Linked DNA regions of Homo sapiens. The protein of the gene in region 2 purifies or fractionates together with the protein of the main gene of each other region. This does not show direct contact. Each region holds a gene or a part of one and is shown on either strand. Other genes may lie near its edges.

Evidence for each region.
Region 1: the proteins of FMO5 (region 2) and HERC1 purify together in Homo sapiens (affinity purification with mass spectrometry; 2 studies listed by BioGRID and IntAct, with this or other methods). This does not show direct contact.

The regions. Positions count from the first base shown.
Region 1 is NC_000015.10:63,659,415-63,663,248, forward strand, and holds part of HERC1 (probable E3 ubiquitin-protein ligase HERC1), read right to left. Parts: intron 3,791-3,834; coding exon 3,570-3,790; intron 2,608-3,569; coding exon 2,339-2,607; intron 1,612-2,338; coding exon 1,559-1,611; intron 523-1,558; coding exon 322-522; intron 1-321. UniProt on the Homo sapiens protein: Involved in membrane trafficking via some guanine nucleotide exchange factor (GEF) activity and its ability to bind clathrin. Acts as a GEF for Arf and Rab, by exchanging bound GDP for free GTP.
Region 2 is NC_000001.11:147,190,819-147,194,652, forward strand, and holds part of FMO5 (flavin-containing monooxygenase 5), read right to left. Parts: intron 1-3,834. UniProt on the Homo sapiens protein: Acts as a Baeyer-Villiger monooxygenase on a broad range of substrates. Catalyzes the insertion of an oxygen atom into a carbon-carbon bond adjacent to a carbonyl, which converts ketones to esters.

The DNA.
Region 1 (3,834 bases), on a different chromosome or scaffold from region 2:
TACTTTTCTTCATTTTTTTAATAGAAATGGGTCTCACCATGTTGCCCAGCCTGGTCTTGAACTGCTGGCCTCAAGCGACCTTCTTTCTTCAGCCTTCCAAAGTGCTGGGATTACGAGCATAAGCCACCAAGCCCAGCCAAAACTTAATACCACATTATACCTTCAAAATGTTAAAACAACTGGCTAAAGAGACTTGTTGGGGTGAGATAATGTTGAACCATTAGTCTTATTTACTTTTACTTTATTATTATTATTTACCTATCTAAGAAACAAATTATAGTAGATGCTATAAAATCAATGCAAATCAGGATTTCAGTTTACCTATTTGCATCAGAGTCTCTTCCATACTGTTGGTGGCTGTGACCATTGCTACTGATGCTCCCAGTGGATCGCTGTCAGGGAACTGAACTGGTTCTGGTACAATGCGCCGGTCATTTAAACCAAGCGGTCCAGCAAGTAATTCAAATTCTTCTTCACCAGTTAGCTTTTCATCTTCATCAACATCCAACATGTCCCAGTCTTCTGGAATTTAAATAAATAAATGTATAGTATGTGAATTTAAATATTACATAAATCTGCTGGCAATGGTTGTTCTGAAAATACATCTAAAATGCAGATGAGCAGCCAGATGCGATGGCTCACGCCTGTAATCCCAACACTCTGGGAGGCCGAGGCGACTGGATCACATGAGGTCAGGAATTTGAGACCAGCCTGGCCAACATGATGAAACCCCATCCCCACCAAAAAATACAAAAATTAGCCAGGCATGGTGGTGTGTGCCTGTAATCCCAGCTACTCAGGAGGCTGAGACCGGAGAATTGCTTGAACCTGGGAGGCCGTGGCTGCAGTAAGCTGAGATCACGCCACAGCACTACAGCCTGGACAACAGAGTGAGACTCCATCTCAAAGAAATAAAAACAATAAATAAATAAATAAATACATACATACATAAAATGCAGATGGACTGAAAGTCCAGTGACCACATAATGAACTATGGCACCATCTCCTGAAAACTTAACCAAACTGCACTCCTGAAGCATAAGTGAGACTCTCAGGGAAAGGGAGTCAATGTAGTTAAATAAGTTGACAGCAATAGCAAATGCTACAGCTGGTAATAGAGGTTTAAACTAATTAAAAATATTGTCATGGGTCCAACAAAGAGTTCTTAGCTGTCTGTAATCATTAGGGAATGAGTTATTTCAAGAAAATGAGTGCTCCAGAAAAATCAATGCTCATCTCTATTTATTTTTTACTTTCCACAATTAGGGTGGAAATTCAAAATATACCACATCCTTTCCCTACTTTGAAAAAAAAATACACCTAATAGAAATTAATATTCTGTGGTAAAGTTGGTCTTTGAAACCACGTTCTTTTCCTTTGACTTTTAAACCAGCGTTGTTGCTATTAAATTCCCTTGAGTTTTTAAGGGAAAATTTAAGTTAACATGTACACAAATACAAACACACACACACACGAAGGTGAATTTTAGTAACAGATGTTAAGCAGAGAGGATATATAAAAAAACATGTAAAATAAAGAAGCTCTCAAAACAAACTACCTTCATACACACTGTCTTGCTTGCCAATTAGATCTGGAGCTTGTCCCTTGTACCTGCACCAAACATGAAGAACATTGCATTTTTATATAAAACAGTTAGTACCCCAAGATGCAAATTAAGTCATTAGAACATTTTAAGAGGTCATTAATAAAGCAGCACAAAATAAAAAAGTATGTTTCATGTTATAGGCTAACATAATAAAAACTGCTGGTATGTAGGTACACACATGCTTACAAAATCAATGATTATTTTACCAAACTACTGGGGAGATTTCTGGGTTACCTAAAACAACTCTTTTAACCAAATTCTATTCCATAAAGCCTTAAAGATTTTAATAGTTGACAATTAAGGGCAACAAACCTACTCTCTAGGGATTAAGGATGTAAAGAGATAATATTTTTATGGAACTCGTTTAATCAAAAGTCTGTTTTTTTCATCAGGAAAAAGATCTTAATTAAAATGCCAGAAATATGGTAGAAAATACAAATGAAAAGAATTGAGTAGAAGCCTCCTGAGGGTTAAGGCAAGGGTCCTGACCATTACTTGCCAACAAGTCAGAGGTTAACACAGTCAAACTCCAGGGAAGGATATGTTGCTATGCCATTATTCCTGGGAACATGAATTTCTGAAACCCCTCCATCCCTTCTGCCCAAAGTGTAAGAATCACGGGATTTCAGGGAAGGTTAAATGTAACTCCTCACGTGAAAAATCTACAGTTCCCAAGACTTAAGGTATGAGGTATCTTCAGGAGGTCTGGATATCTACACAATTTCAAGGTACCTTTCAGAACTTGTTGACTTAGATTTGGTCTTCATGGCTAAGTACTTCTCCCTGCAGGTGCCACATAACAGGTAGTACGGATTTCCACTCCCACATTCACCGCCAAACCAGCCATCCACATAGGAACCATTGCTGCGATAGCCCTGGCGGTTTGCACTGCGCCCACAGCCTGGATGGTTTCTCTTCATGTGCTGATTGAAGCTGACGACGCTGCATTCACACAGTTCACACACCACCACTTCTTCCCTGTCTTCAGACTCACAAACATGCTGCACAAAAGGATTTCATACCAAATGATTAGTCAATTTAACATAAAACCAAGAAGTACCAAGTAGATTATTTATATTAAATTACTTTATTACATATGCTAGAATATTTCCAACATGTTCATTAATGCTAAATAAAAAATTTCTTTCAAATCAGAATTCAGATAACACAATCGGAAGGTGTTCTTTGCCCTCTCTCACTCTAATAAGTTATATCAATAATACAAGTAACTGAGTATCCTACTGAGAAGAGTTAATGAACATGACAATCTGTCCTATCTCAAAATGAGGCTTTTTAAAAAAAAAACTCCACTAGTGAAAAGAACTAATTTTCATCTGGTCACAAAATGCATACCTACTTTATGAATTTTTGGGAAAAATCATTATGATTCACTTATTTATATAGCAGATTCTCTTTCCTGTAGGACTTACATCTATGAGCTTTTTGGTCTCCCTACTACAAAAATGTAATGCTAACCAATGTATATACAAATCCACCATGTACCTTGCCCCTAAATGGAGGTATTTACAAGATCTAGGTGAGCACTGGTTCCTAGAATAAGGCATTACATTGATTAAATGGAACCTATGAAGGAGAAGAACATGCATTCAGATAGCAATGTGAGCACAGCAGCCATGTTATATAACCTGTCAACGTCTACTGGAACCTGATGCTTGTTTTGTAATTTATCTTTGACATCAGAATCAAATATTACCACAGTATGACTCTATTCATCTTGTCTGGGGAGAGAAACAATAAAATCCCACAGAGAAAGCAAGAGAGACTTTTCCTTATTAGTTTGTAGGTATCAAAGTAACCTCATAACTTTAAATCCCCAAACCTCAGGATGAGATAAAAGACTTTTTAGAGTGTTTCAACTCTAGGCAAGGCTGCTGTTAGTAAGCTATATGAACAGGAGGGCAGGAAAATAAGTCAGAGCAGCCCCCGCTGCAGTCACACACACCCAGGTAGGCCAATCCAGTACCTCTGGGATCCACATTCCCAGAATATCATTGTCACTGGTCAGGTCTTGTCCAAACATAGCTTCCATCGCCTCATCATCAAGATCAATTTCCAATTCCTCATCTAAATTAAAGTCATACAACGCCCCTGGGTCTTGCTGCAAAGATATTCCTTCTCTCCGACTTTGATTCCTGTGGGCCTGCACAGAGCGGTATAATCCCGCTCAGAACAAAACAAAAAAGGCATTTTATTTGCATGCATAAAAT
Region 2 (3,834 bases):
GCTATCCCTCCCCACTACCCCCACCCCACAACAGTCCCTGGAGTGTGATGTTCCCCTTCCTGTGTCCATCTGTTCTGATTGTTCAATTCCCACCTATGAGTGAGAACATGCGGTGTTTGGTTTTTTCTCCTTGTGATAGTTTGCTGAGAATGATGGTTTCCAGTTTAATCCATGTCCCTACAAAGGACATGAACTCTTCATTTTTTATGGCTGCATAATATTCCATGGTGTATATGTGCCACATTTTCTTAATCCAGTCTATCGTTGTTGGACATTTGGCTTGGTTCCAAGACTTTGCTATTGTGAATAGTGCCGCAATAAACATACGTGTGCATGTGTCTTTATAGCAGCATGATTTATAATCCTTTGGGTATATACCCAGTAATGGGATGGTTGGGTCAAATGGTACTTCCAGTTCTAGATTCCTGAGGAATCGCCACAGTGACTTCCACAATGGTTGAACTAGTTTACAGTCCCACCAACAGTGTAAAAGTGTTCCTATTTCTCCACATCCTCTCCAGCACCTGTTGTTTCCTGACTTTTTAATGATCGCCATTCTAACTGGTGTGAGATGGTATCCCATTGTGGTTTTGATTTGCATTTCTCTGATGGCCAGCGATGATGAGAATTTTTTCATGTATTTTTTGGCTGCATAAATGTCTTCTTTTGAGAAGTGTCTGTTCATATCCTTTGCCCACTTTTTGATGGGGTTGTTTGTTTTTTTCTTATAAACTTGTTTGAGTTCATTGTAGATTCTGGATATTAGCCCTTTGTCAGATGAGTAGGTTGTGAAAATTTTTTCCCATTTTCTTGGTTGCCTGTTCACTCTGATGGTAGTTTCTTTAGTCCATCTTGAATTGATTTTTGTATAAGGTGTAAGGAAGGGATCCAGTTTCAGCTTTCTACATATGGCTAGCCAGTTTTCCCAGCACCATTTATTAAATAGGGAATCCTTTCCCCATTTCTTGTTTTTGTCAGGTTTGTCAAAGATCAGATGGTTGTAGACATGCGGCATTATTTCTGAGGGCTCTGTCCTGTTCCATTGATCTATATCTCCCTTTTGGTACCAGTACCATGCTGTTTTGGTTACTGTAGCCTTGTAGTATAGTTTGAAGTCAGGTAGCGTGATGCCTCCAGCTTTGTTCTTTTGGCTTAGGATTGACTTGGTGATGCGGGCTCTTTTTTGGTTCCATATGAACTTTAAAATAGTTTTTTCCAATTCTGTGAAGAAAGTCATTGGTCACTTGATGCGGATGGCATTTAATCTATAAATTACCTTGGGCAGTATGGCCATTTTCACGATATTGATTCTTCCTACCCATGAGCATGGAATGTTCTTCCATTTCTTTGTATCCTCTTTTATTTCATTGAGCAGTGGTTTGTATTTCTCCTTGAAGAGGTCCTTCACATCCCTTGTAAGTTGGATTCCTAGGTATTTTATTCTCTTTGAAGCAATTGTGAATGGGAGTTCACTCATGATTTGGCTCTCTGTTTGTCTGTTGTTGGTGTATAAGACTGCTTGTGATTTTTGTACATTGATTTTGTATCCTGAGACTTTGCTGAAGTTGCTCATCAGCTTAAGGAGATTTTGGGCTGAGACAATGGGGTTTTCTAGATATACAATCATGTCGTCTGCAAACAGGGACAATTTGACTTCCTCTTTTCCTAATCGAATACCCTTTATTTCCTTCTCCTGCCTAATTGCCCTGGCCAGAATATCCAACACTCTGTTGAATAGGAGTGGTGAGAGAGGGCATCCCTATCTTGTGCCAGTTTTCAAAGGGAATGCTTCCAGTTTTTGCCCATTCAGTATGATATTGGCTGTGGGTTTGTCATAGGTAGCTCTTATTATTTTCAGATACATCCCATCGATACCTAATTTATTGAGAGTTTTTAGCATGAAGTGTTGTTGAATTCTGTCAAAGGCCTTTTCTGCATCTATTGAGATAATCATGTGGTTTTTGTCATTGGTTCTGTTTATATGCTGGATTACATTTATTGATTTGTGTATGTTGAACCAGCCTTGCATCCCAGGGATGAAGCCCACTTGATCATGGCAGATAAGCTTTTTGATGAGCTGCTGGATTCAGTTTGCCAGTATTTTATTGAGGATTTTTGCATCAATGTTCATCAAGGATATTGGTCTAAAATTCTTTTTTGTTGTGTCTCTGCCAGGCTTTGGTATCAGGATGATGCTGGCCTCATAAAATGAGTTAGGGAAGATTCCTTCTTTTTCTATTGATTGGAATAGTTTCAGAAGGAATGGTACCAGCTCCTCTTTGTACCTCTGGTAGAATTCGGCTGTGAATCCATCTGGTCCTGGACTCTTTTTGGTTGGTAAGCTATTGATTATTGCCACAATTTCAGAGCCTGTTATTGGTCTATTCAGAGATTCAGCTTCTTCCTGGTTTAGTCTTGGGAGGGTGTATGTGTTGAGGAATTTATCCGTTTCTTCTAGATTTTCTAGTTTATTTGTGTAGAGGTGTTTATAGTATTCTCTGATGGTAGTTTGTATTTCTGTGGGATCGGTGGTGATATCCCCTTTATCATTTTTACTGCATCTATTTGATTCTTCTCTTTTCTTCTTTATTAGTCTTGCTAGCAGTTTATCAATTTTGTTGATCCTTTCAAAAAACCAGCTCCTGGATTCATTAATTTTTTGAAGGGTTTTTTGTGACTTAATTTCCTTCAGTTCTGCTCTGATTTTAGTTATTTCTTGCCTTCTTCTAGCTTTTGAATGTGTTTGCTCTTGCTTTTCTAGTTCTTTTAATTGTGATGTTAGGGTGTCAATTTTGGATCTTTCCTGCTTTCTCTTGTGGGCATTTAGTGCTATAAATTTCCCTCTACACACTGCTTTAAATGTGTTCCAGAGATTCTGGTATGTTGTGTCTTTGTTCCCATTGGTTTCAAAGAACATCTTTATTTCTGCTTTCGTTTCGTTATGTACCCAGTAGTCATTCAGGAGCAGGTTGTTCAGTTTCCATGTAGTTGAGTGGTTTTGAGTGAGTTTTTTAGTCCTGAGTTCTAGTTTCATTGCACTGTGGTCTGAGAGACAGTTTGTTATAATTTCTGTTCTTTTACATTTGCTGAGGAGTGCTTTACTTCCAACTATGTGATCAATTTTGCAATAGGTGTGGTGTGGTGCTGAAAAAAATGTATATTCCGTTGATTTGGGGTGGAGAGTTCTGTAGATGTCTATTAGGTCTGCTTGGTGCAGAGCTGAGTTCAATTCCTGGGTATCCTTGTTAACCTTCTGTCTCGTTGATCTGTCTAATGTTGACAGTGGGGTGTTAAAGTCTCCCATTATTATTGCGTGGGAGTCTAAGTCTCTTTGTAGGTCACTAAGGACTTGCTTTATGAATCTGGGTGCTCCTGCATTGGGTGCATATATATTTAGGATAGTTAGGTCTTCTTGTTGAATTGATCCCTTTACCATTATTTAATGGCCTTCTTTGTCTCTTTAGATCTTTGCTGGTTTAAAGTCTGTTTTATCAGAGACTAGGATTGCAACCCCTGCCTTTTTTTGTTTTCGATTTGCTTGGTAGATCTTCCTCCATCCCTTTATTTTGAGCCTATGTGTGTCTCTGCACATGAGATGGGTTTCCTGAATACAGCACACTGTTGGGTCTTGACTCTTTATCCAATTTGCCAGTCTGTGTATTTTAATTGGAGCATTTAGCCCATTTACATTTAAAGTTAATATTGTTATGTGTGAATTTGGTTCTGTGATTATGATGTTAGCTGGTTATTTTGCTTGTTAGTTGATGCAGTTTCTTCCTAGCCTTGACAGTCTTTACATTTTGGCATGTTTTTGCAGTGGCTGGTACCGGTTGT